Homo sapiens: one gene and its partners. The protein of the gene in region 3 binds, or shares a complex with, the protein of the main gene of each other region. Links are inferred from orthologs where the notes say so. Each region holds a gene or a part of one and is shown on either strand. Other genes may lie near its edges. The genes, in order: WWC1, MAGI2 and DDN.

Region 1 (7,873 bases), on a different chromosome or scaffold from region 3:
GGCACTATCTCCTCCTCTTAGAATTGAGAACCCCACCTCAACTCTGCCCTCTCATTGTCAGCTCAGCTGTGACCAGTTTTAGCATGCCCTCATCAACCTCCATGGCCTCCTCCATCCACTCCAAATAGACGCACAACCCAAACATAAGTAGGAGTTTAAGGAGAGTCTCCTGGCCACCCCACCTCCTTTCCCAACCAGACCATGGCCCTGAAATCTCTCCTTCACAGGCACTCTAAAGCCCACACTGGGAGTCCAGAAGCAAAAACTCACTAGAAGCAGCTAAGTTGATATCTACATGACTACAGAAAAGTCACTTTGCCTCTCTGAATCTCAGTTTGCTCATCTATGAAATGGAACCAGCAGGAACTAGGGCAGTAAATCATTATTCACACAAACTCCATTTCTCTGTTTGTAAAATGAGTAGGCTGTGCAAGACTTGTTTCAGTTGATTTCCCAGCACTGAATTAAGCACGGAGGACCGAGAGGTAAATAAAAAACCATCTCTTCTGCCTCGGCTCTCGTGTTACCAAGGTTTCTTCCACCCTCATTTTCTCTGGCTTAGGACGTGTTTTCCCATCATTGGAAAAAAAGAGTCCACAGTACATTTATGAACCTCAAATAATGCATGACTCAAGAAAGGGGACATTATTGGCTCCATCATAGAACATAACTGTGCATTCCCCAGGATGTGTGGGAGGGACGGCATGAGGTAGGGAGGTAGAGTCATGGAGCAGGAAGCAAAATCTCAGCAGAGGTTCTCAAAGCCTCAGTTTCCCCTGAAGAATGCAGATGCGAACAGGAAACTGGACTTGCTAACATATCTGTTCCTTTGTTTTATATTTAATTTCTCCTCTTTACCATCTTCATGGAATATGTGACTCTGGCTCTCTGAAACACTCTAAAACACGTGTGGATAACGGCCTTTCTTCCCTGCAGTTGCAGTGGAGAAAAGGGTTCAAGTGCGCATCGTTTTTAAAAACAAGACAGCCTGTCTCAGGCTCAGGTGATTCCTCTGGGCCACCGGGATGTGGCCTTTGTCATTAGAAAGGCTTGGCCTGTGGTCACTTCTGCACTGCCCAACACTGCCCAAGCCTGTCTCCTTCAACTCCACACGCGGGCAGCCAGACGCAGCCCCAGGAGGGTGGCCAGGAGAGGGCTGGGCTTCTTGTCTTCAGTTCGGATTCCTGCAGTTCAGTCACCTGTAGAGTAACGTCCAATTCAGCCTATCATGTGGCTGAGCCGGTTTTACCTTTAATCTCTTTCACGTTTGCCCTCAGCCTCGCAGAATGTCCGGGATGATTCACGCGCCATCACATGGGGCAGGCAGTCATCTGTTTTATTACCTCACCCTGCTTGCCGCTTCTGCGAGATAACCTGGGATTCTTTCGTTGGGGGTGGATGGGAGGTAAAAAGAGCGAACAGACCTAGGCCTTAATTCAGGAGTCAATTCCTGCTCTGGTCTCTCTTTCTTGCTTCCCAGGCCAGGTCAAAAGGTCCAAAGAAGCAAGCCATTTGGAAAATGCCAGGGTTTGGGTGGCTGGACTAAAACGAAAGTGGGACTTGGCAGTCTAAAAGGTGTTTTCTCTTCACAATCAATGCCAACCAGTAAAAAGGCTTGGTTGAAAAATAAGGCCAAAAAAAAAAAAATCAGCAATTAGGAGGACTGTTGCAAGCAAGCAGGCATAATTTTCAGAAGGGGAAAGGACGTGGATTTGTGTTTTGAACAGAAAATACTTCAAATGGTCCACATTTCATAGAGGTGTGTCTGCTGCCAGGCACGGTGCTCCGAATGCACCGCACCACAGCCCCTGAGATGAAGGCGTGCTGCTGAGTGCCAAGCCCTCACATTTCTCCTCCTGCTTTGCCCTAACCACAAGCCCAAAGGAGTCCATATTGTTATGTGATTTTTTTTCAAATCAAAGACTGAGACTTCAGTGAAGCAAGCTGCCCAAGGTCACACAGCTAGAAAACCGGGTGGGCTTGGGACCCAAACAGCCTGATTCTAGAGCTCTTGCTTCTCAACCAAAAAACTATGAAGCAAACATCAACAGAGATGAACATTTGTCAGTATCAGTCATGTTCCACATCCCAACCATGGGGAAGTTCTGAGGCTGCAGAGTGATTTAAAAAAGAAAGAAAGTCTCCAATCTGGGTGACAGAGCGAGACTCCGTCTCAAAAATAAAAAGAAAGAAAGAAAGAAAGTCAGCCAGGCAAGGTGGCTCATGTCTGTAAGCCCAGCACTTTGGGAGGCTGAGGTGGGCGGATCACCTGAGGTCAGGAGTTCGAGACCAGCCTGGCCAATATGGTGAAACTCCAGCTCTACTGAAAAATACAAAAATTAGCTGGGCGTGGTGGCGCAGGCCTGTAATCCCAGCTACTCTGGAAGCTGAGGCAGGAGAATTGCTTGAATCTGGGAGGCAGAGGTTGTAGTGAGCCGAGATCATGCCACTGCACTCCAGCCTGGGGGATGGGGGGAGACTCCATCTCAAAAAAAGAAAAAAAGAAAGTATAGGTTAATAACTGAGAACACTGCACTAGAGTCAGACCTAGTCTGTCTTATGAGCTCTGTATCCCAGGCCAACAACAAAGCATCTTGGAGCCTCATCTGTAAAATGGGTATAATAAATAGACTTTCCTATGCCAGAGGGTTGTTATGAAGATTGAGATCATGTATTCAAAGAACCTAGCACCAGGTTGGCTTTGCTTTGGGGCTACTGCTCTAATCAATAGTGGGTTTTTATGTAGTAAAGGCTTGACCCAAACAGAGGAAGTGTAGAGGGCTGTGGGAATTCCCCCATAAAGGAATGGGGAATTCCAACTTTTGGGTGTTGAGGGCCAGTCTGAGGCTGGTGTCCCTGGACTCTGGTGCCTGGTATTTATGGAATGAAGGAGGGCCAAGCACTGAGCCCCGAGGCCTGGCCTCAGGGAAGGAATTAACTATGAAGAAGGCATTTGGAGGCGAGGCTCACTCTGGTGGGTCTTTTCTGTCAAGAGGAGATGAGACCACAAACATGATTCCCTCTCTGGCTCAGCAACACCCTGGTCCATACAGCACAGGGTGCTGGTTCTTCTGGAAGACCGTGGGGCTCAGGCAAGAGAAGACACCCAACTGGGCTTCATTCGACCAGTCCAGCTTCCTGCCATATGCCGAGGGCAAAAAAGGGTTAAATTCCCACTCAGTACACAGATGTAAGAGGAGATGGGGAAGTGAACAGCCAGTTGATCATTCACTCAATCATGCTAGCTTGCTTTTTGTATTTAATGCTACATTTTAAATTTATTTATTTATTTATTTGAGACAGAGTCTCGCTTTGTTGCCCAGGCTGGAGTGCAGTGGTGCGATCTTGGCTCACTGCAACCTCCACCTCCCAGGTTGAAGTGATTCTCATGCCTCAGCCTCCCGAGTAGCTGGGACTACGGGCGTGCACCACCACGCCCAGCTAATTTATTATTATTATTTTTTAGTAGAGATGGGGTTCACTATGTTGGCCAGGCTGGTCTGAAATCCTGACCTCAGGTAATCTGTCTGCCTCACCCTCCCAAAGTGCTGGGATTACAGGCGTGAGCCACCGCACCCACTAATTCTACATTTTTAATTTCTCAAGAAACATTGTGTCTCTGATTGTTTTATTCTCTTGAACATTTTTCAAGATGGAATTTTGCTTTGCTTACTTTCTTCTTTTTCATAGCCCCACTTCTCCCAAATCCATAACACACCTACCTCAAAGTATCACAGGAAAGAAAGCCTGTGAAGCTGCTAGCCACAGCCTGTCACAAGTAAGTCCTCAATTTAGCTAACAATAACAATGGCATTACTATTACTTTTACAAAGTGTTTTCCCTGACACCCTCTGGAAGTCCTCCCAGGAAAGCGGATCCACAGCGCTCCTAATTTTAGGGACCCTGAGGGGAGCCAGCTACATTTCCAAATGGTGGGGAAGGGTGGAGGGTGGGCGAAACGTCGTAGGGAGAGTTGAATAGAAGGAGACAGATGGTGCCTGTGTTGGGGGAAGGGACCAGAGATCCTGGAAAACTTATGTTTCCCAATTCGCAAGAATGTTTCCATTTAACCACTTCTTGCCTGACTCCTGATTCTACACCACAGAAAAGCAGGGAGTTTTTAAGATTTGGGGCCACCTGTGCCGAGAGCCTGGCTACTCCGGGTGGAGAGAGACAGGAGCGTTTTAAGTACAGGCAGAGCGGTTTTTGGCCCAGCCCCCTAGGTCTGGGACGCAGGTGAGGGGCGGTCTCTCCTTCCCCTGGCAGGGGCAGCGTAAGGGTGGCCGGCGGCTGGGACTGTCCCACGAGGGGGCGCGTCTCGGGCCCTAGGACCCGCCCTCGAGGCGCTGCGCGCGGGGAGGGGACCCGGGAACCCAGGCGCCCGGCGCTCCGCCTCCCGTTTCCGGGGCAGCGCGGTTACCTGCACCGCCCGAGCCGCACCTGGCGGAGGCAGAAGTCACAAACCCGGCGAGCTCAGAGCGGTGGAGCGGAGAGGAGGGACGGCACCCGGCTGCAGGGAGGAGGGAGGCGGCAGCGGCAGCGGCGGCGTGGAGGGCGCAGCGCGCCGCGCGGCGGAGGAGGGCAGACGGCGGCGGCGGCGGCGCTCGGCTCGCTCTGCCCGGCCGGCTGGGCGCGCACCCGGGCTCGCACCGCGCCGCTGCGGACGCACATGGCAGCGTGAGAGGCCGGCGGCGGGAGGAGCGGGCGGCGCCGGGTCGGGGCTGCAGGGCCGCATGGACAGCGGCGCCACCCCGGCCGGCCCCTACTAGGGCCCCCCATCTGCGGGCGCCACCCCCCGGATCATGGTGCCTCGGCGGCCGCCCGGGCTAAGAGCGGCCGGCTGGAGCCGCTGAGCCCCCGCTGCGGCCGGGAGCTGCATGGGGGAGCGCCGGCAGCGCTTGGGAAGATGCCCCGGCCGGAGCTGCCCCTGCCGGAGGGCTGGGAGGAGGCGCGCGACTTCGACGGCAAGGTCTACTACATAGACCACACGAACCGCACCACCAGCTGGATCGACCCGCGGGACAGGTAGGACCCTGGAACCCTCCTCCGTGCCCCCACACCCCCGCCTGGGCCCCCACCTGCCCCTGGAGCCGCCGGCCGGGACTGGGAGGGGGCAGGGGAGCTCTGCGTGCCTCTTGAGCTCTCTTCAGTTCGCCACCCCCTGCTCCCCCCAACCTTCTGGAGCGCTGCTCCCGCCTCAGTGGGCCACCGAGAGGAGGCGCCTGCCGGGGAGCTGGCCCAGGCTGCCCCACCGCCATCCCCAGTTGGAGGACTTAGGCCCCAGCCGGCACCTGCCCGGAGTTTTGACCTTAAGCTCTAGCCCCGCCCGCCCCCTTTAGGAAGAGAGGTCGGGCGGGGGCGGGGGTTGGGGGAGCGACCTAGCCGGGTGAAGCCGGGTCTTCCCGGGGAGGCTTCCACCCAGCGTGGGGGGTGGGCGGATGGGGATGGGGAAGTGTCCGGTTAGAGGGGGTGGTCAAGACCCCAGGATTCCGTGGGAGACCACTGGAGAGAGGGCACTCGGCGCAGAGGAAGGCAACCTGAGGTGTGCTTTTTGACAGGTGCCTTGGAAGCTGCTGAGAACAGCACAGGGGCAGCCAGGGGGCCCTGGAACCCGAGGGTGGGGAGGAAGTGAAGAAGCGGGGGAGGGCAGATGAGGGAGACTGGTTATCCAGGAATCTGGCAGCAACTTGGAAGCTGTTAGGATGGAGATGGAGGTGAGAGGCCTCCCGGAAAGCCTTGCCCCTCGCCTCTTTCTCCTCTCTTTCTTCCCTGATCGGGGAAGGGGGCGGCGAGGCTCCTCAGCCCTGCACCAGCGGGACCTGACCTTGGTGGGTACCAGGCCGCTGTAGGTTGAGATAATGTGCAGAGGCAGATGGAGCCTGAGATAGCTCGGTGTGGCTCTTACCTCTCCAGACTTTCTCCTGGTTGTTTGGCATTTCTTTGCTCACATGCTGCACACACACACATACATTCACCCTCTCCATGTATGTCCTAGAGTCCCCGGACCACGATGTTGTTGACACGGTCTGTGGGCAGAGTGTCTTGGGGAATGCGGACTTTAAACCTTGTCTGTGACCTTGGGGGTCAGGTCCCTGTAAAGCAACCAAGGTGAATTTCTTGGACTCTTCATCTTGTGTGGTGGGGGTGGAGGTGTCCCAGAAGTGTATGTAGCAAGATGTGGGTCAAAAAAAGAATATAAGCGGAAAGAAAATGAGAGTTGAGATTCTCGGTAGTTTCTGGGAGCACTTACTTTCATTCATTCATTCATTCGTTCATTCAGCGCTTCCTGGATGCCTCCTCTACACTCAGCACCATGCTGAATGTCTCATGAATGTAATCTGGAAGGTAAATATTTAGTGCTAGAGAGCATCTCTTAGGCAAGCTGCTTCAACCTCTGAGCCTCAGTTTCCCTGTTTGTCAGATGGGGGAGCCCACCATTTCCCTGAATTTAAAAAGTTTGCTTGGAAGGGAATATTGGGATGCTTAAAACTTGGAAGGGACGTACATCAGCGCCCAACTCCCATTTGAAACATAAGAGAAAATTTGAAGCCCAGAGGTGTGATTTGCTCAAGTATTTTGATTTTTCTGCCATTCTGCGTACCAGTTCTTCACCAGCTCTGAAGTTCTAACCTGCAAACTTGTCACCCTGACACACTGCTTCCCCACCCTTACTCGGGTCAGTTGCCAGCTCTGCTACTGTGTTGGTGAACTTGGCAGCACCTTTTCTCTTGTCCTTTTCTCAGAACAGACACAAGTTCAAACATATGTGACCTGCCCCAATTTAGGTCCCTGTAGTTTACGGAGGCCTGTGTGCTGTTAGCAGGTGGACGTCCTGTTGGAGGGAAAGGACCGCCCCTGCCAACACTGATAATCATGCATCTGGGGACTTCTAATACAGCAATAGGAGGCCCCTCTCAACAGTAATTCTTTACCCTTGGAAAAGGGTAAGTAAGTAGCTTCTATGAAGAACTGATTGGCTGGAGCACAATCTCCCAAATTTTAGTGTTACATGGACCACCTCCATGATTTTTTTTTGCTATATCCACCTGTGCTATTGCTTACTTACTCCTTGACTTTAGATCAACTCACTTTAAAAATATGTGTACCATTTTCACAAATGGGAAACTAGTTATATCTATTGTCATACAGGGGAAACAAAAAAGATAGGCAAACAAAAAAAACAAAAAACCAGGGTTAGTATATTTTAGCTAGGTACTGTGGCCAGCCTAAGGCCACAGCACCTCACCTGCCCAGCCTTTGTTTTTAAGCAGATTGGCAAGCCATGGAGAGGCGGCAGAAACATAGTGGCACTTAGGTGAGCAGCTCACCTTCTTCATCTTGTGTCATTGGTTTTTTTGTTTGCTTTTGGTTTTTTTGTTTATTTGTTTTTGTTTTTTGGAGACAGAGTCTCGCTCTGTCGCCCAGGCTGGAGTCCAGTGGTGCGATCTTGGCTCACTGCAAGTCTGCCTCCTGGGTTCAAGCGATTCTCCTGCCTCAACCTCCCGAGTAGCTGGGACTACAGGTGCACGCCACCACATCCAGCCAATTTTTTGTATTTTAGTAGAGATGGGGTTTCACTGTGTTGCCCAGGCTAGTCTTGAACTCCTGAGCTCAGGCAATCCGCCCACCTCAGCCTCCCAAAGTGCTAGGATTACAGGCGTGAGCCACCACGCTTGGCCTTGGGTCACTGGTTTATAAACTTCATCTCTGTACCTCCTTGTCATCCCACCTGGACTGGGGTGGTATTGGGCCCCTGAACTTGGGGTCCTGAGGGGGTCTCATGTCAACTCTGGGGGTCACTATTGTGGTCCAGCTTTGTATGTTTTGGAAAAGTGCTAATTGGAGGATAGCCACTTGTGGTTTTCTGGAATTT
Region 2 (8,377 bases), on a different chromosome or scaffold from region 3:
TCAGGAGATGAACCAACTGTGGGCTCTCTGGCTATCATTATACAAATTTATCATCAATGAACCAGTGAAGCACGAAACTGAGGGTTAATATAGAATGAAAAGAGACTTTCCCCTCAATATATCACTTTAGAAGCATATATTCTGAGTTCTAAAAGCAATAATCTTCCACATAAAATTCAATACAAGAGTGATCTCCAACCACATTAGATCAAATTATGGCAAGATTCAAATAATATCTAATCCAGGTCCTCATCTTATATAGGAATCCCTGGCATATGGTCATTTCAGCCTCTTCATGGATACCCACAATGATGGGAACTTCAGCCAACAGGGTGCTCACAAATTTTTGGAAAACTCTGTTAGAAAGCTCATGATTTAATGAAAGTAAAGCTGCTTCATCCTTTCAAATTTCTCATAGATTTATCACCATTTTGTCCTGTGGGCTATCACAGGATAGTCAGAATTCCTTTTCTTACCTGATAGCTTTTCGCTATTTAATGATAGCTTTCATTCTTTCACTTCTCCACGTTAAGTCTTTCCACGGCATTTCATAGAATACATCTATAATACACAATAATCTTCCTTTATTTCTCTTTTGAACTTACTCTTTGCTAGCGTGACAGTTTGCCAACGTCCGCCTCAACAAGGAGTGCTCAGAATTGAACACAACATTTAAGATGTGATGATCATTGCAAACTATAATAGGGCATCCGTTTGTGGGACTCTATTAAGTCCAATTTAACAACGCTTAACTTTTGCAGCCACGTTCCATGACAAATATCAAGCATTTGGCCAACAAAACCATGGTCATTAGTTGTGTAGTAGACTTTTCGTACCCAAAGATCTTTCCATTTATGTCTATTCCTATAAGGTGGTATTTTGACATCGAACATGTTAACATGAATCTCTGTATTTGAACCTTAGGTATCTTATCTTCAAAAATATCAAGTTACTCTATTTTCCTTCCTACCAAACTCATATCCCTTCAGTGTTAAATAGTATGGAGCTATGTTGACTTATAATAACCTATCTCAATTTATTACCTCTTAATACTCAAGAATACCCAAGGAAAACATTTTCTTGTATGGCAATTTACATTTAAGAAACCTTGCCCAGTACTTCTTTTTATCTTGTTTATTTTAAAACAAGTTTTTTAGAGAATAATTTAACAGTGCGGTACATCTCCGTAAAAGCATTTCTTAGTAGTTGATCATGATTAAGCGGCAAAATGCAGGTAATGACATGCTCAATTCCACCTTTGAGTCAGGACAAACAGTGTACATCGACGACAACAACAAACCCTTATGCTAATATGCCTGTGACGCAAATATCCATACATACCGCACACGAATTGTGCAGTGAGCTAAAAAAGAAAACAGAAAAGAAAAAAGCTACTACTTTATTCTACTTAAAGTTGTCCTCTATTCAAACTTTTATCTCACTCTTCTCTCCTTCTGCACCATAATTTTCTTTCGAGCAAAGACAGGGAGTTCTGGATGATTCCAATCTCCCCAAATCCACATCACAGCCTCCAATTGAGGTTCATTTAAGTCAGGTTGGAGCTGAGGGAGCCTGGGCTGGAACCGGCCAGGGTTTCATCCAGCTCCTCCCCCAAAACACGCCCCCCAAATCGGAGCCAGAGGAGAGCCCAACCACAGAGGACTTCCACTCAATGAGGGCAACCCCTGAGTAAAGTCCATGCGGACAACCATTCATCTCCTCCGACAACCATTCATCTCCTCCGACCCCCGCCCAGCACTAGACTGCGCTCCTAGCACCGCGCCTTCTTCCGGAGCCTCCTCCCCCGGGCTGGCTAGGGGTGAGCGCAGGGGTTAGTCAGTACGCACGTGACGCGCGATGCCCACATGACACGACCGTGAGCGGGGGAGGGGGACACGGAGTGAAGAAGGGGAAAAGTTACAGAAGACCCGTCAAAGCGCCCAAAGCAATTTGTCCCTTCTTTTCTTCGCCAGCGGTGGCTCACGGATCCCTAAGGGACAGCTGGGGACCCAGGCGCCCCCAGCCCAGCCCCAGAAACGCTGGACGCAGTTCTCCGCTCACCCCACCACCTTCTCTTCCCAGACCCGCTGGTGATGCCGCTGCACCCTGAAGTTGCTCCTTCCTTCTTTCCCTCCCTTCCTCCCATTCTTTCTTTCTTTTCTTCCTTCCTCCCTTCCCCAAAAGCTCTTCATCCGCTTCGGGTGATGCCACTGACGCACATTCAATTTGCCCCAGCAGCTCTGAGGAGGTCAGACCAGGCCGAGCACCTTCCAAAGGGGAGGGTCTAACTGAGCAAACAAAGTTGCACGCCACACCACAACCTGCCCCTCCCCTCCCTTTAGCCCCCAAGTCGAATCCCCGGCGAAACTCACTTGCACTGCGGGTGCTCTCTGGCCCCCACCCCATCATCGCGCAACACACCCCCTTCAACATGCGCGGCCACCCTTTCATTGCCCTGCGCCCCGAGCGGTCCCACCGCCCGGCAAAACACTGAGCAAGCCGCTGCTCTCACCTTGCTTGACACACTTGAGCCGGAGGGGGTCCTTGCAGTGTTTGATCACGGCCAGCACGTCCCTGATGGTGAGCCCCGCCACGGGGGTCTCGTTCACCTCCAGCAGCAGCTCCTCCGACACCAATTTGCTGCCGCTCTCATAGGCCACCTTGCCGGGCTTCACCTCCCCCAGGTAGGGGAACTGTCCATTCTCGGCGCCCCCCTTCAGTTCAAAGCCCAGCTGGCCCTCCGGGTTCCTGCCAATGACACTCTCATGGACTTTGCTAGTCCAGTGGCTTTTCTTTTTCAAGCTTTTGGACATGGCAGTGGGGCGAGTCGCCTCAGTTCCTGGGCTCCTTGGGGTTAGGGGGGCTGGTGGTGAGAGAATGAGGATGGAGGAGCAAGGGGGCCCAGGGGGAAGAACAGCAGACTTTGCCTTCGCCCCCCTCTATTCGGTGCTTTCCCTCTTCTTTGGATGGAGTGTGGACGAGGAATGGGGAGGATGAGAGGGACGGCTGGGCAGAGGTAGGAGAGCTTGGATGAGGTTGTGCTGTCCCTTGAATGACACTCAAGGCTGTGGCCCCGCAGCAGAGGAAGCAGTGGTGGTGGCGTCGGCGGCGGCGGCGGCGGCAGCCGGAGCGAGCAGTAGCCGAGCTGGTGAGCGGGTGTGGTGGGGGTGGGGAAGGAGGGTAGGGATGCCGGGGGCCACTCCTGCGTGGTGCGAGTGGGAACGCGCGCGCGCGCCTGGGTGTGTGTTGTTAGCTGATATCCATGGCAGCTGCAGTGGCAGGGTGCGTGTGCGTGTGTGTGTGTGTGTGTGTGTGTACTAGTTCTACTGTACTGGCAGACGGGAGGAGGCAGGGGAGGAGGGGCGCGCGCGCCGGGTGGGGAGCCACGGAGGGCTTCGCCGCTGCCTCCCTCCCTCCCTCCGCAGCTTGACCCGGTAGTGAAGGCAGAGAGAGAGGCAGGCTGGGTCCGCCTGGCAGCCTACGGGAGGAGGCGGGAGCCGGGAAGGAGGGGAGCCTAGGCCCGGCGTGGGGAGGCCGGCAGGAAGGGCCTCGAGCCCAGTGCGGACCTTTCTTCAGCCTCTGTGCGACCGAGCCGCGCGCCAGGCTCCTGTGCGAGGAGGACGCGCTGACTCCCTCCGACCTGGGCTCCGATGGAGCAGAAATAGCGGGACCTGGACTTGTGGCGCGCCTGGTGCCACATCTCGGGCTCTGCGAGCGTCCTGGCGCGGGATCCTGCCGTGAGAAGGAGTTGGGGCGGGGGACCCGGCGGGGCATTGCGGGAGAAGGCCTGGGATCCCTGGGAGCCTTGTAGCGTGGGGGAGTTCACTGTGTAGAGAGGTTTCATGTCTTCATCTATATAGTCACTTATTTGTCTTAAAGTTCTCGAAATTCCCTCTTAGAGAAGGAGAAAGTTAGAGAACTGGAGGCTGCGTACCCTGATTACGCAGAAGGGAAGCAGCCTCGCATTCCCCGGGGCAGGCCCCCGCCCGCGCGTCCCGCCAGTAGGGGAATTTAGCGGACGGCTGCGGTTGTCTGGTGAAAGGCTATCCAAGGATAAGGGGCTTCACTTTTCCCAAGTAGGGGAAAGAGAAGGGGTCTACAGGGCTAGGGGTGGAGGGAGCGGATGCAGTGAGCAGCCTCCGCAGAGAAATTGACAATTTAACCAGGGACCTGCGGCAGAGACAAGGCGGAGACACTCCCTTGCCCAGGAAAGCCGCCAGAGTCCGGCTTGTACCTGGGGAAGAATCCTTAAGACGGTCTGGCCCAACACTCCTTTGCTCACAGAGAAAGGGGAGAAGACTCCCGAGGGTGAAAATGGTACATTCGGAGCTGGAACTCAGCTCGCTGACCCCAAGCAGTGTTCCCTTCTTTTCGCCAGGTTTGCATCCAAGAGAGGGGAGGACAGGGGCAAAAGGATGCAGGGAGGCTGCTGATTTCCACTGAAGAGCTAATTTCCTGTGAGACATTAACAGTGATTTAAGAAAAAGATTCCTGTAACTGGTAAATGAATTTCATTTGCTTAACTTTTAGATGATATGTTTCAGGCAAAAAAAAAGTTGTGCACCCACTTATCTCTTTAAAGCGGAGGATGAAAAGCATTGAATAGGTAGGATTCTTAATGTCTGAGATGAAGGCGATGTAGGAGGCAAACAATACGGTTAAAAATGTTGAGTCGACCCAAACAGAAAGACCAGGTTTCAATCCAGACTCTGCGGCTTACTGAGAATATGATCTTGAGTAAACTGCTTGACCTTCCTGAGCCTCAGCTTTCTTAGTTGTTAAATGGACTTTAACAATACTAATCTGTTAGGACTGTGGTGAGGATGAAATCAGGGAAATCAGTCACAGCAGTGCTCTCCTGGCACAGGTGAGTAGGAGTTCGAAATGATAATTCCCTCCTCTTTCCCTCTTAGGTATAACTTACTACTTGGGGATGAGGGGGATCAAATGTAGTCAGAACTGGAAGAGATCTTAAAAAAAGATGATTTGTTTAACCTTGTGTCTTTTTTTCACTTGAGAAAACAGATCCTCCGTAAGTTGGCTGCACTAGTTGAAGCTTATTCAGTGAGCCAGGGGCAGTGCCAGGATCTGAAGCCAGAGCTGCAGGCAATGCCCAGGAGTAGGCAAGACTTGATAGCAAAGCCTAATCTCACCCAGAGAAGTTGAGTGTTAGCATTATGAGGCATAGTTCTAAATGGAAACTCATCATGAGAACCGAATATATACATATTGTAAAACCAAATGACAAGCTACCATTCATGGAATATACTAATATTTATTAGGTTCTAACTACATGCAAGATGTTGTTTTATAGGCTTTACACATAATACTTAATTTCTCCTGACATTTTGATAAAATAGGTACTGTTATCTCCTTTTACAGGTAAGGAAACTGAGGTATACAAGGATGAACTTTTGCAAGGCTACAAATCTTGTTAATAGTGAAGCTAACGTTCAGACCCAAGTGGTTCGGCTCTAGACTTTGTCTCAGTTACTGAATTGAACTCTCTGTGCACTTACGATGTGTCATACCAGTTCTCACTACATAGTGTCCCAAAAGATTGGGCCTGCTCTTTCTTTCAGAGACAATTAGGAAAAAAGTAAACAAACGGAGCAGGATTTGGGCATAACAGCATGCTCCTCCCATCCCCCAAATCCCAGGAGTGTCACTGAGGTCAGTGCCAGTTAACTTAGTGCTCTTCAACTTCACAGCTACCCTTCTTTGCCCTAAATTGTGACATTAGAGCTGAAATCTGTAAACGTCTTTATGGTCAGTTGGCACAGTGTTTAGCTTTGTCAATAGAAGGTGCTAGGGGAACACTGCAGAAAGAAAGGGGCTCCTTTTCTTGGTTCCAGTGCTTTCCTGCTTGCTCCTACGGTGTGGTGGCCAGTGAGTGACTTTCTGACCAGTGGTGTGCAAGAAGGCCATGTTACATAATCTTCAGTAAATTTGGCCAGTTCCCTAGTATGTGTCTTTCTATGGAGTACCACTGGCATGTCAGTGGAATGGCTTCCTAGCAAGTTTTACTGAAAACACAGCTGATGGTTTCCTCAGCAGCCCAGTGTGTGACACCTTAAATTTCTGGATCATTAAGTGGACCACAGCCATATTATTTCCAATGAGCGCCTACTTTCAGGCTTAGTAGGGTGGAGGGTGGGTAGGGGGAAGTTCTACTCAGTTATTCCCTCCTTGGGTACTCTCCTAGAGCCTGAGAGATAGTGGCTGTTCCCAATAACCACTATTACTGTATTCTTTAGTGGGATTTTTTCCTGTCCTAATAGTCAATACCCTTTGACTGGATCTTAACTGATAAAAGTGGAACCCTGAGGAAAGCACTATCCTTGGAGTCAGAAATTGGGATCAGATTTTTTTTCTTTCTCTTATGGTATTCCTCATATTCGCTTAATTTCTCCACTGCCTTTACCCTTTTTGGATTTGATGCTATGTCAAGAAAAAATTATTTCATCACTGAGCACTCTGAGTGTAGAGCAGAGTGCTAAATATTGCATGCTATTCCAGAAGAAAAATAGTTTAGGAATCCTAAAAGCCAAAGAAAGAAAGATATGAATGCATTCAGTTCTTAGAAGAGTTCTATGAGATAGATGCTTGTGGCAGACATAGTCTCCACCCAGATCTCCTAGGATCCCTTTGGTTGAATCTGAGTATCCTTCCTCTAGCTTCTGTGTTCTTTTACTTCTCACAGCCTGCCCCGAGAATCTCTTTGGAGGAAGGCCCAAACACTACTAGACTCACTTTGTGTACTGGCATAGAGAGCCAGACAGAACCACCTGCAAGTTTACTTCTTTCCCAGGATACCCTTTGCCAAGGACTTTCCTATAGAGTATAAAAGACCAGCCGTCTTGCCTCTAGTAGCAAGAAAACCTGAGGTGTAATTTACACCCTGAGGCTCCCCTATAGAATTATATTGATGTTAATATTTTGCCTGAAACCACCTTCTTCCCTATCTTGCTTACTGTGGTACCTGATGAGTTTTTCTTGGTAGCATTTCTATAATAAATCACTTGCAGACAATCTTCATCTCAGGGTTTGATCCTGGGGATCCTGACTTAAGACATTGCTATTCTTTTTTTTTTTTCTTTTACAGATGAGGAAACTGAGGATCAGGGCTTTTAAATTGCCCCAAATCACACTACTAATAAGAGATAGAGTTGTGGTACCTTTTTTAGAGGGACCATTATTCTGCTGACTGCAGTACTGTAGAGCATAAAGTTTCTTATCCACACTGTTTCTTAGTTCAGTCTGTCAATATCACTACTCCACGATTATTGTTGTTTGTTTTTCTTTCTCCCTGTCTTTTACCTCAAAAATCTCTATTGTGATGCCAGAGAGACCTTTCTGAAACCTCTCCTTTTTTCTGTGTTTAAAACCCCCCAGTGCCGCCCATGAAATACACAGCAAAGTCCAAACTCCTTATCTTGCTTGGATCCTCCTTTCCACCCTTTTTAACTGTTCAGCCATATTTCTCCATGTACTTCTGAGATTGGAACCCAGGGCAACAAAGCTAATGTGGGTTCTCCAAGATTAACACAACTGAAAGGAGGCCCCTTTATGCCATCTATTCTAGGTCCCTTGGAATATAATTAAAAACAGGAATTTCAACATTGAAATGTAATGATGTTCAGGTAAGGGCAGTAAGGTACATTGACTTGAGTCAATCTCCCACCATGTCTGGGGACTGGGACAGCTGAGCCAGGGGTCCTACCTAAGGGTCAGGCCTGTGTCTTCACTTCTCCTTTCAACCCTTTACTTCTTCCAGAGTTGAACGGCTTACTTTCCTTCTCTCACTAGGCCATTTCATGGCTTGTGTTTGCCTGAAATACAACTCTTTCCCTCCCTGGTCTACACCTGCTCACCCTGAAAGAAATACCTCTGAGCCCACTTTCTTTCTTGGAAGCATTTTATGACTCTTATTTCTGTTATCAACACAGCTTTTATTTATGTCTCCATGTATCCTTTGAAGAAACACAACTTTTCAGGTTCTATGTTTTATTTGCATTCTTAGTGTCTGGCACATTGTCTGACACAGTGTAAAAGCTGAGTAGAATTTTGCCTGATAGCAGATGTGCCTGAAGTGAGGGTGTCCAAAATTTCATTAAATGACGACTGCTTTAATATGAATTCTTGGCTAAGGCAGGAGAATCGCTTGAACCCAGGAGGCAGAGGTTGCAGTGAGCCGAGATCACACCACTGCACTCCAGCCTGGTGAGAGAGGGAGACTGCATTCTCAAAAAAAAAAAAAAAAAAAAAAAAAAAAAAAAAAAAGAATATATATGAATTCTTACTGATAGTATTAAATGATTATCTCTTTACATTCACAGTAATGTCTTACAATAACAGAATGCAGGAGAGCACATAT
Region 3 (7,729 bases):
CCTCCTCCTCAGAGGCCCTACCCTACCCTGCCCTCCTATGGCTGCCACCATCCCTGCCCTCCTGCCTGATCCTGGTTAGGCCTCTCTGCTCAGCTCCACACCCAGTGCATCAGCCCCTGCGAAGAGCTCACCCTTGTGCCCTGAACATAACAGACATTAATTAAATCTGCTCATTCTCACCTCTCCTGAAACAAAATCATTAATGGGCATATGCTTCCCTTCCTTTCATTTATATTTCAAGGATGAGAACAGGTATGGGTAAAGATACAAGGAAAAGAGAAGCAAAGGAAGTCTGTGGGGAAGAATGGGGACCAGTGGACCCAAGGATGGATGCGTTGGGGACACAAATACAAGAAGGGGCCTCTCACTGCCTCTTCCTATTTCCCTGTTGGGTCCCTCTGATGTCCCTCACCCCGAAGAGGACCTCCTCGGTTTGGCTTATGACATCTAGGATCTCCCCGACACTGTCGCTCAGTTCCGCTGTCTTCCCATCTTCCTCTGGCGAACTGTTTCCAACCTCGGGCAGGGTCCTCTCATTCCGCCAGGAGGCGCCCGGGGCTTCTGTGTCGCTTCCATCAGAGGAGCCGCTATGGACGCTGAGCTCCTCAGCTTCGTCCGTGTCCGAGTCAGGGGCTGTGTGGCGGCGGATACGGGACACGGCTTCTCGCAGGGCCCCGGCGTAGGGCCCTGGGGTCCGCGCCCAGCCCCGGCCGGCGCGCCGCTGGACCACCGCCACTTCCGACCCCTCGGCTCTGCCCTGGGCTCCCGAAGCTGCTGGGCCTAAGGCTTGGTGCTCTGGGCTACCTGGCTGCGTGGGGGCGTCCCGCAGGTTTACTTCGGGGGCCGGGAGCCCCAAGATGCGGAAAGTGCGCTCCTCCAGTGTGGAGTCCCCCGGCCTCCCGCCCTCAGCTTCGCCCCCGCGGCCCCCGCCGGGCTGGTGTAAAAGGCGACTGCTCGACAGCCGCTTTTGACAAGGGGAAGGAAAGACCGTGGCCCCTTCACCCTCCTCCTTGCCGGGCTTCGATTGGCTGGGGGAATCCCCCACCACGCGTGTCACCCCAGAGGGCAAAAGCTGCACCTGCTGGGTTCGGGGGGTTGGAACATATTGGGATCGTATCACTACGCACGTGGCGTCAATGACAAAGACGCCTTCCCCACGGGACAGGCCCTGGGAACTGCGGGGCAAGGTGTGGGCACGGCGGGTCGCCTTCCAACCCTCCAGGGTCTCCGGTCCTGCCCCCTCTCCAAGACCCAGAGATTCTCTCCATCCGGTGCCTCCGGGAGCCCAGGGTCTGGGGAGTGTCTGGCTATGGCGGGGCGGCTGCTTTTTAGGGGAGGGAATCCAGCATTTGGGAAACCAGATCTGTTCTCCTTCTTTCCCTTCCCTCGAGCCCTTGAGGTGGTGCCTGGATCTGGGAGCGGGATGCGGGGCACAGGGAGCCGCAGTTGCAGACCCCGCAGGAGCTATCTCGGTGCCTGCGCTCCCTGTAGCTTTGGCTTGGGGATGGCTGTCGCTACCACTGTTCAGGTCAGCAGCAGCCAGCCCCAGGCTTTTCTCCACGACCCCCTTGCCGGGCTCTGGCCTTGCTCTGGCCGCTCCACAGCCTGGGGATCCCCCCAAGAGACCTTGCCCCTGTCGGAGACCCCAAGCCCCGAGGACGTCCCGGTAGATCCGAGGATCCAGCCTCTTCTTTGTGCGCCCTCCGTCTGTCCTGGCTGGAGTCGCAGCTGGGGCTGATGAAGTGGGCACCTGAGAGTTCCCGGGGCCTCTCTTAGTCCCCAAGGTCCTATGGGGGCCTTCGTAAGAAGGTGGAGCCACGTAGGGTGGCGGCCGGTCCCAGCGGCGTCGTGGGGCGGTCCCGGCAGAACCTCTCAGCAGCAGGTGAGCCTCGTAGCTTGGGGGCCCGGGCCGCCGACCTCCCCAGGGCCCCGCCCACGCCGACCCTGGGTCGCTCTGCGGCTGCGCGGATGGACGGGGCGCTCGCCCCACAGGCGCCAGGCGCTCCGGCCGCAAGGGAGCAGGGAGCCCTGCCAGCTGGGCCACCCGAGGGGCGTTGCGGGGCTCCGGGCGGGGTCGACCCGGGGGGCTCCGTCGGGCCCCACCAGCCTTGCGCCTTTTTCGCTCGGTCTCCTTGGCCTCCCGCTCCTGCGACGCCGCTTTCCTTTTCTCTTGCTCCCGAGCTCGGACCTCGGCCAGGGGCCCCGCCCGCCAGTTGGTCGCCTCCTGCAGCACCCTGGAGGCCCAGGGCCGGCGGGGCGGCGGCTGTGGGGATCCCGGGCGCGGCCCACACCTGGGACAATGAGCAGGAACCCAGGTGAGCAGTTTGTGGGGGAAGGGAGCCGAGGTCCGGGGAGCTGGGAGCACTGGAGACCACTTGGGGCAGCCATGTGAAGGGGTGTGTGTGAGTGTGTGCGCGTGTGCACGTGCGTATATGTTAGGACTGAAGTCGAAGCGGGACTCCTCGCCATCTCTCCATGCACACTTTAACAGCGTCTGCCCCATCTCACCTCCTGCCCTTTCTCACACCCACTTCTGTTCCCCCAAACAACGGGATGAGTCAGGCCCCAGCCCTCGGGAGCGGGCAGAGGTGGAAGGCGTGGGAAAGAGAAGGGGGACCAGCAGTGCTCGCTGGTGCCTGCGGGGAGGTCCGGACCCCACTCCCCGCCCCACCACTCTCTTCCCCTCACCCCTGCTTCACTCACGTGCGGTTCTGGAACCCGCGAGCCCAGTGGCTGGCCTGGAAGTCCATGGGCTGTCGAGAAGGGGCGCGGCGACTATAATGACAGGAAATAGTCTTCACTTCTATCACCAATAGCTTGGACTTCTGCACCCAGAGGCAGCTGCCAGACTCCTCATCCTGGAGCTCCCGGGGGCTGTCAGGCCCCTCGGAGAACAGTGGGCCATCCAGCATCCTGCCCCACCCCACCCCGGCCCCCCACCCTCCCACCCGCCCCAGGAGCCCCCTCCCAGCCCAGGGAGCCGGCGCCCACTGCAGAGCCGCGGGCCCGGGGACTGGGAACTATATATACCCGGGCACACGTGTGTGTGCCTGTCTCTGTGTGTGCGCGCGCATGTGACACCGCGCGGACTGCTCCGCGCTGCTACCTCCCCCATGTGCACGGCCGCCCCCTGGGGCCCGGGATTGGACGCCCCTTCCCACTGCTGTTGTCCCCCAAGCCTGATGGGATCGCACGAGTGGGCGGGGGAGGGACTTATGATTCTTGCCAAGCTGACAGTGCCCCCTCCCCCGCCCCTATTTCTTCAACCTTCCTGCCGTTTTAACCCTTTACTCTCCTGCTTGTCAGGTTGCCTGACCACCAGGGTTCTGCCCCTGGCTTCCTGCCTCAGATTTCAGTTTCCCCAACATAGAGTGATGAGATTGGAACTCAAGGTCTCTGCCTGCCACTCTGCTGGTTTCCATGGGGCTGGGGTGCAGGAGGGGCTGGCCCACGGCTGGGGGGCTATTTTTAGCGGCAGTGGCTGTTCGGGTGCAGAGATGAGATGAGTAACCAGCTCCCATGCGGTGGAGAGAGGAGGCGGTGGCTTTTACCAAGCTTTTGTGCGACTCTGAGGGAGAGCTGCCTTCCCTAAGCTCAAAAAGGGTGACCCCTACACCCGTATCTCCTTGTCAGCTCAGTGCTGCAGCCTAGGACTGCTGGTACAGCAGGACACAGGCGTCTGCCTTGGCCACCCAAGCTGCCCTACCAGTTCCATTCTACATGTTTGTCCTTGGGCAGCCAGGGAGCCCTCCCACAGCAGCAGGCTTTCACCTCCAATCCAGAAGCCAGGATTTGGGGGTTATATTGTTCTGTGCCCACACAGCCTGCCCAGCTTTATGGAGGACAGAGTAAGTGCTTATGCACTCTCACCCTTCCAGAGGGGGATGGAGGAGAAATGATGTGTTTGCTTGGCAAAACTAATCCCCTAGCAACTGAAATGATAAAAGTGGCCTTTATTTTTTTCAATGTAGAACTCCCCCTCACCACCACCACAATGCCTAGTTCACTCAGTCCCCACCTTAAGTGGTGCTCCAGATGCTCACCTTTTGGGCTGCCTCTGTCCTGGGGGGCTGTTGCTTATATCCACATGATCCCTCCTCCTAAGCTTATACCAGGTGTCCCCTGATTCACCATGGTAATGTTAGTGGCAGCACAGCCCACGCCAACCCTTCCATGCAGAGACTTAGCAACCATGCCTGGCAACCATGGCAGCAGCTTCAGTGGAGGGGAGCAGTGCAGAGAGAGGGGAGAGTGTGTGGGGCATGGTTCCTCGGGAAGAAGGGATAATTTGCCTCTCTGGAGAGGAATAGGTAAGAATAGAAGCTTGTGAGTCTCCCAAATTTCATCCCTTGTCTCTCCCTCAGCTTCATCCTCACACTGAGACGGATAGGTTGGGTTTTAGAGGGAAATGGGAGAAGCAAGAGTTCCCAATTAGTTTTCCACTAATGTACATGGAGCCCTTTGGGTCCAGACCCTTCCTTTTAAGGGGATGGGGAACAACCAGAAAGGTTGTGGGGCAGAGACTGACAGACTGAGAAACAACTCAACAAAACCAGGTCTCTGCTCCCTAACACAAACCTTTAGAGAGAACGCAAACATCCCGTCCCATCCACCCTACCCCCCTTGATTCCACACACCTGCCAGCTGCACTGATGACTTGACTCGAAGATGCTTCCTTCCACCCTAGGTCCCACTAGAGTCCTGAGGCTTTTTAAAGCCCTTGCCTCCTCCCTAGGCAAATCTTCCTTAATGAGGGAATGTGACATAAGGGGCCATCTGTCCTTTCCACCATGTGCTTACCCTCCTGACACATAAACATACTCTAATTCTAATAACTTGGAAGCCTTCCTCCCCCAAGGTTGAGAATGTGCTGTGAGAGCTGTAAAGGGGTGAAGGCAGAAGCAGGGGCTCCTCCACAGCCATGATGCAACACTGAAAGCTGAGCTCTGATGAGGGCCACCTTCTTTTTTTAAAATAAGCTTCCTCAGGTCGAATCTGATGAGGGCCTTGATGCTTTTCCCTGTGTTCCATCAGGAGAACCCAGTATGCCCTGGCTGGAGGGTTATCAGAGGGGTTAGGCACTGTGGGGCAGGGGCAAGGAATGACTCCGAAATTGCTCCTGGCTTGGATGGGAAACTGTATCATACCTGCAAGGCTGGGGTGAGCTGGCACCCAAATTTAGCTCATACTCCAGTCTAGCAGTTCTTCTGATGTTGGGTGCTGACTGCTGTTTGGGTCTACATGCTTTCAATACAGGGAATGGATCTGATGGAGTGACCACTGCCCTGCTGTTCTCCCACCATCCAGCTCATTCTCACCTTGGAAGAGGCAAGGGATTTGTAGGTTTAAAGATAGTGCTGGCCGGGTGCGGTGGCTCATGCCTGTAATCCCAGCACTTTGGGAGGCTGAGGCAGGTAGATCACAAGGTCAGGAGTTCGAGACCAGCCTGGCCAATATGGGTGAAACTCCGTCTTTACTAAAAAATACAAAAATTAGCTGGGCGTGGTGGCGCGCGCCTGTAGTCCCAGCTACTCAGGAGGCTGAGGCAGGAGAATCACTTGAACCCGGGAGACGGAGGTTGCAGTGAGCTGAGATTGCGCCATTGCACTCCAACCTGGGCAACAGAGTGAGATTCCATCTCAAAAAAAAAAAAAAAAAAAAAAAAAAAGATAGTGCCAACTCAGCAAAAGCCAAACAGTCCAACCTTCCCCAACTAAGAAAAGCTGATAATGGTGGCAGGATTCTCTGCCCAAAGGAGACCCTCAAGTCTGTCTACTCGTGTGTGTGTACGTGTGTGTGTGCGTACACACGTTATTATTATTGTTAATGACCAGTTGAAGAAGCCATATAAAGTAGGAAGGTAGTACCCATCAACTGTAAAAATCAAACACTGCAATATCGTGAAGAGATTCCTGTCATTTAATTAGATTTGCCACAAAAAGCAATAACCTTAGCTAACCACGCTGCTCTCCTCCTCCACCTAACCCCCATCTCCCTTCATATGCACAAACACAGGAACCCAAAGCCCCTCCTCCCCACAATCCTCCCCACTCACATTATGGGAAGAAATGTCACTAAATGGACTTGGCCTCCTCCATATAGCACGGAACAGGTGAATAAAAATATCTTTATGAAGAATTTTGTTGTGCTATTATCTTAGGGTTGAATCAGGGCCAAGATGGAGGCAGAGGCAAGTGAGGTCTGGGGATCTCTTAGAGATCAGAATTTGTCTGAGAGGCACAGAGCCTATAGTTCACCCAGAAAGGGGGATATATCTAAGAGGACAGGGGCTAGAACTGGCTAGGCTGAAAGTTTTTTCAAGTGTATGTGTGAGGGTAAGGGTAGCTATAAATCCATTCTCTTTCCTCCCCCATACCTTCCCTAGCTCCCAGATAGAAGGGCAGGGGACCCTGAACAGGGAACAGAGTCACAATTCCCTCAAGTTTCATCTGATTCCCACAGAGCTTCCAGCAGGCAGTGAGTTGGGCATATCCCCTGGTGCTGCATGACCCCTTCCCCCAGCTCAGGGCTTCTTCTCTCCACCTGTGAGCACCAGGGCCTGCAGGATGTCAGACAGTGATACAATTCCCTTGACCACATCATTTTCATCCACCACTACAAGTCGGTGAACCTGGCACAGAGCAACAAGGGAGAAAGGGAATGTTTAGTGCTGGCCTCAGGGGAAGCCCCTCTGCCCCTACTCTCCTTGCCAAACCCCACTCTCAAGGCTGCTCCCCTCAGCTCCTTTAGGGTTGCTGGCCTCCCTACCTCTGCTTCCACTAGCCTGTTGATGATGGTCTCCAGAGTCTCATGCAGGTAGCACTTGAGAACACCCTCAAAGTAATGTGATCGATGTTGCAAGGCTTTAGTCACAGATACATCTAGGTTGTTGTAGGTCTTTTCTGCTGCCAGATTCTGGGGAGACAGAGGAAGGAGCTTGCAGGGAAGCAAGAGAGCCAGCCTCCAAACCCTGAACCCATCCAACCTCAACAGAGGGATTCAGGGCAATTGTCAGCCACAAGCCACACCCAACTCATTCAATTCCTTTTCAAATAGGATTTGAAAGCCTGGAAGCTTCTAAGACCCTTAGATCACAGAAGAGACTCCCTTCTCCCTCTCCATATTTAACAGTGCCCCCCCCCCACCACTTCCCTACCTCCCAGACCCTCCACAATCACTCACGATAACATCAAACTTGGAGTAGATGTCCACCACACGCCCTAGGGGGACAGAGGCAGCTCAGTAAGGAGGATCTGGGATCTAAAGCTCCCCCTACTCATAGAATCACCCTCCTGGCTAAGCTGAGGGGAAAGCAGATCTTCCCAGAGCCACCCTGACTTGCCTGGATCTTCCCTCCCTCTCCTTCTGCCCAATCTCTCACCCTTCTCATCCACCACTGGCAGGGCTGAGACTCGATGCTGTACAAAAATCCCCAGAGCCACATAGACGGGGGTGGTAGTGCGAACCATAGCAATATTGGCATAGGTGCCAATCTGTAGCTCTTCCAGAGACTTGGACATGAACTCTGGCTTGGGGAACTCAGTGATCTGAGGAAAGAACCATCAGCTTAACTTTCAAGGCACCCAAAGCCACCCTTGGATACCCCCTCCAACCCAGTATATTAGAAATAAGGGCTGGGTGCGCCGGCTTATGCCTATAATCCCAGCACTTTGGGAGGCTGAGGGGGACATATTGCTTGAGCCCAGGAGTTCGAGACCAGCCTGGGCAA

The links.
Region 1: the proteins of DDN (region 3) and WWC1 are in contact, whole or in part, in a crystal structure (PDB 6J69), measured with the Mus musculus proteins. The link is inferred for Homo sapiens from one-to-one orthologs. Residues at the interface, in NP_001013763.1 of Mus musculus: Tyr227, Val228, Ala229, Pro230, Pro231, Ser232, Tyr233, His237, Arg238, Thr239; in NP_740749.1 of Mus musculus: Glu13, Glu14, Ala15, Arg16, Asp17, Tyr23, Ile25, Asp26, His27, Arg30, Thr31, Thr32, Ser33, Trp34.
Region 2: the proteins of DDN (region 3) and MAGI2 are in contact, whole or in part, in a crystal structure (PDB 6KKG), measured with the Mus musculus proteins. The link is inferred for Homo sapiens from one-to-one orthologs. Residues at the interface, in NP_001013763.1 of Mus musculus: Asp222, Arg223, Pro224, Pro225, Pro226, Tyr227, Val228, Ala229, Pro230, Pro231, Ser232, Tyr233, His237, Arg238, Thr239, Leu240, Gly241; in NP_001164217.1 of Mus musculus: Glu308, Met309, Ala310, Tyr311, Thr312, Glu313, Gly315, Tyr318, Ile320, Asp321, His322, Lys325, Thr326, Thr327, Ser328, Trp329, Asp358, Tyr361, Tyr364, Val366, Asp367, His368, Arg371, Arg372, Thr373, Gln374, Phe375.

Annotation. Positions count from the first base shown.
Region 1 is NC_000005.10:168,287,247-168,295,119, forward strand, and holds the start of WWC1 (protein KIBRA), read left to right. Parts: upstream 1-4,398; 5' UTR 4,399-4,906; coding exon 4,907-5,025; intron 5,026-5,459; exon of another isoform or gene 5,460-7,873. UniProt on the Homo sapiens protein: Regulator of the Hippo signaling pathway, also known as the Salvador-Warts-Hippo (SWH) pathway.
Region 2 is NC_000007.14:79,450,508-79,458,884, forward strand, and holds the start of MAGI2 (membrane-associated guanylate kinase, WW and PDZ domain-containing protein 2), read right to left. Parts: upstream 3,161-8,377; 5' UTR 2,814-3,160; coding exon 2,513-2,813; exon of another isoform or gene 2,450-2,512; intron 1-2,449. UniProt on the Homo sapiens protein: Seems to act as a scaffold molecule at synaptic junctions by assembling neurotransmitter receptors and cell adhesion proteins. Plays a role in nerve growth factor (NGF)-induced recruitment of RAPGEF2 to late endosomes and neurite outgrowth.
Region 3 is NC_000012.12:48,996,376-49,004,104, forward strand, and holds the start of DDN (dendrin), read right to left. Parts: upstream 3,001-7,729; 5' UTR 2,913-3,000; coding exon 2,704-2,912; intron 2,316-2,703; exon of another isoform or gene 2,292-2,315; coding exon 365-2,291; 3' UTR 1-364. Other genes in the region: PRKAG1 (5'-AMP-activated protein kinase subunit gamma-1), read right to left, coding at 6,524-6,631, 6,769-6,915, 7,183-7,220, 7,382-7,547. UniProt on the Homo sapiens protein: Promotes apoptosis of kidney glomerular podocytes. Podocytes are highly specialized cells essential to the ultrafiltration of blood, resulting in the extraction of urine and the retention of protein.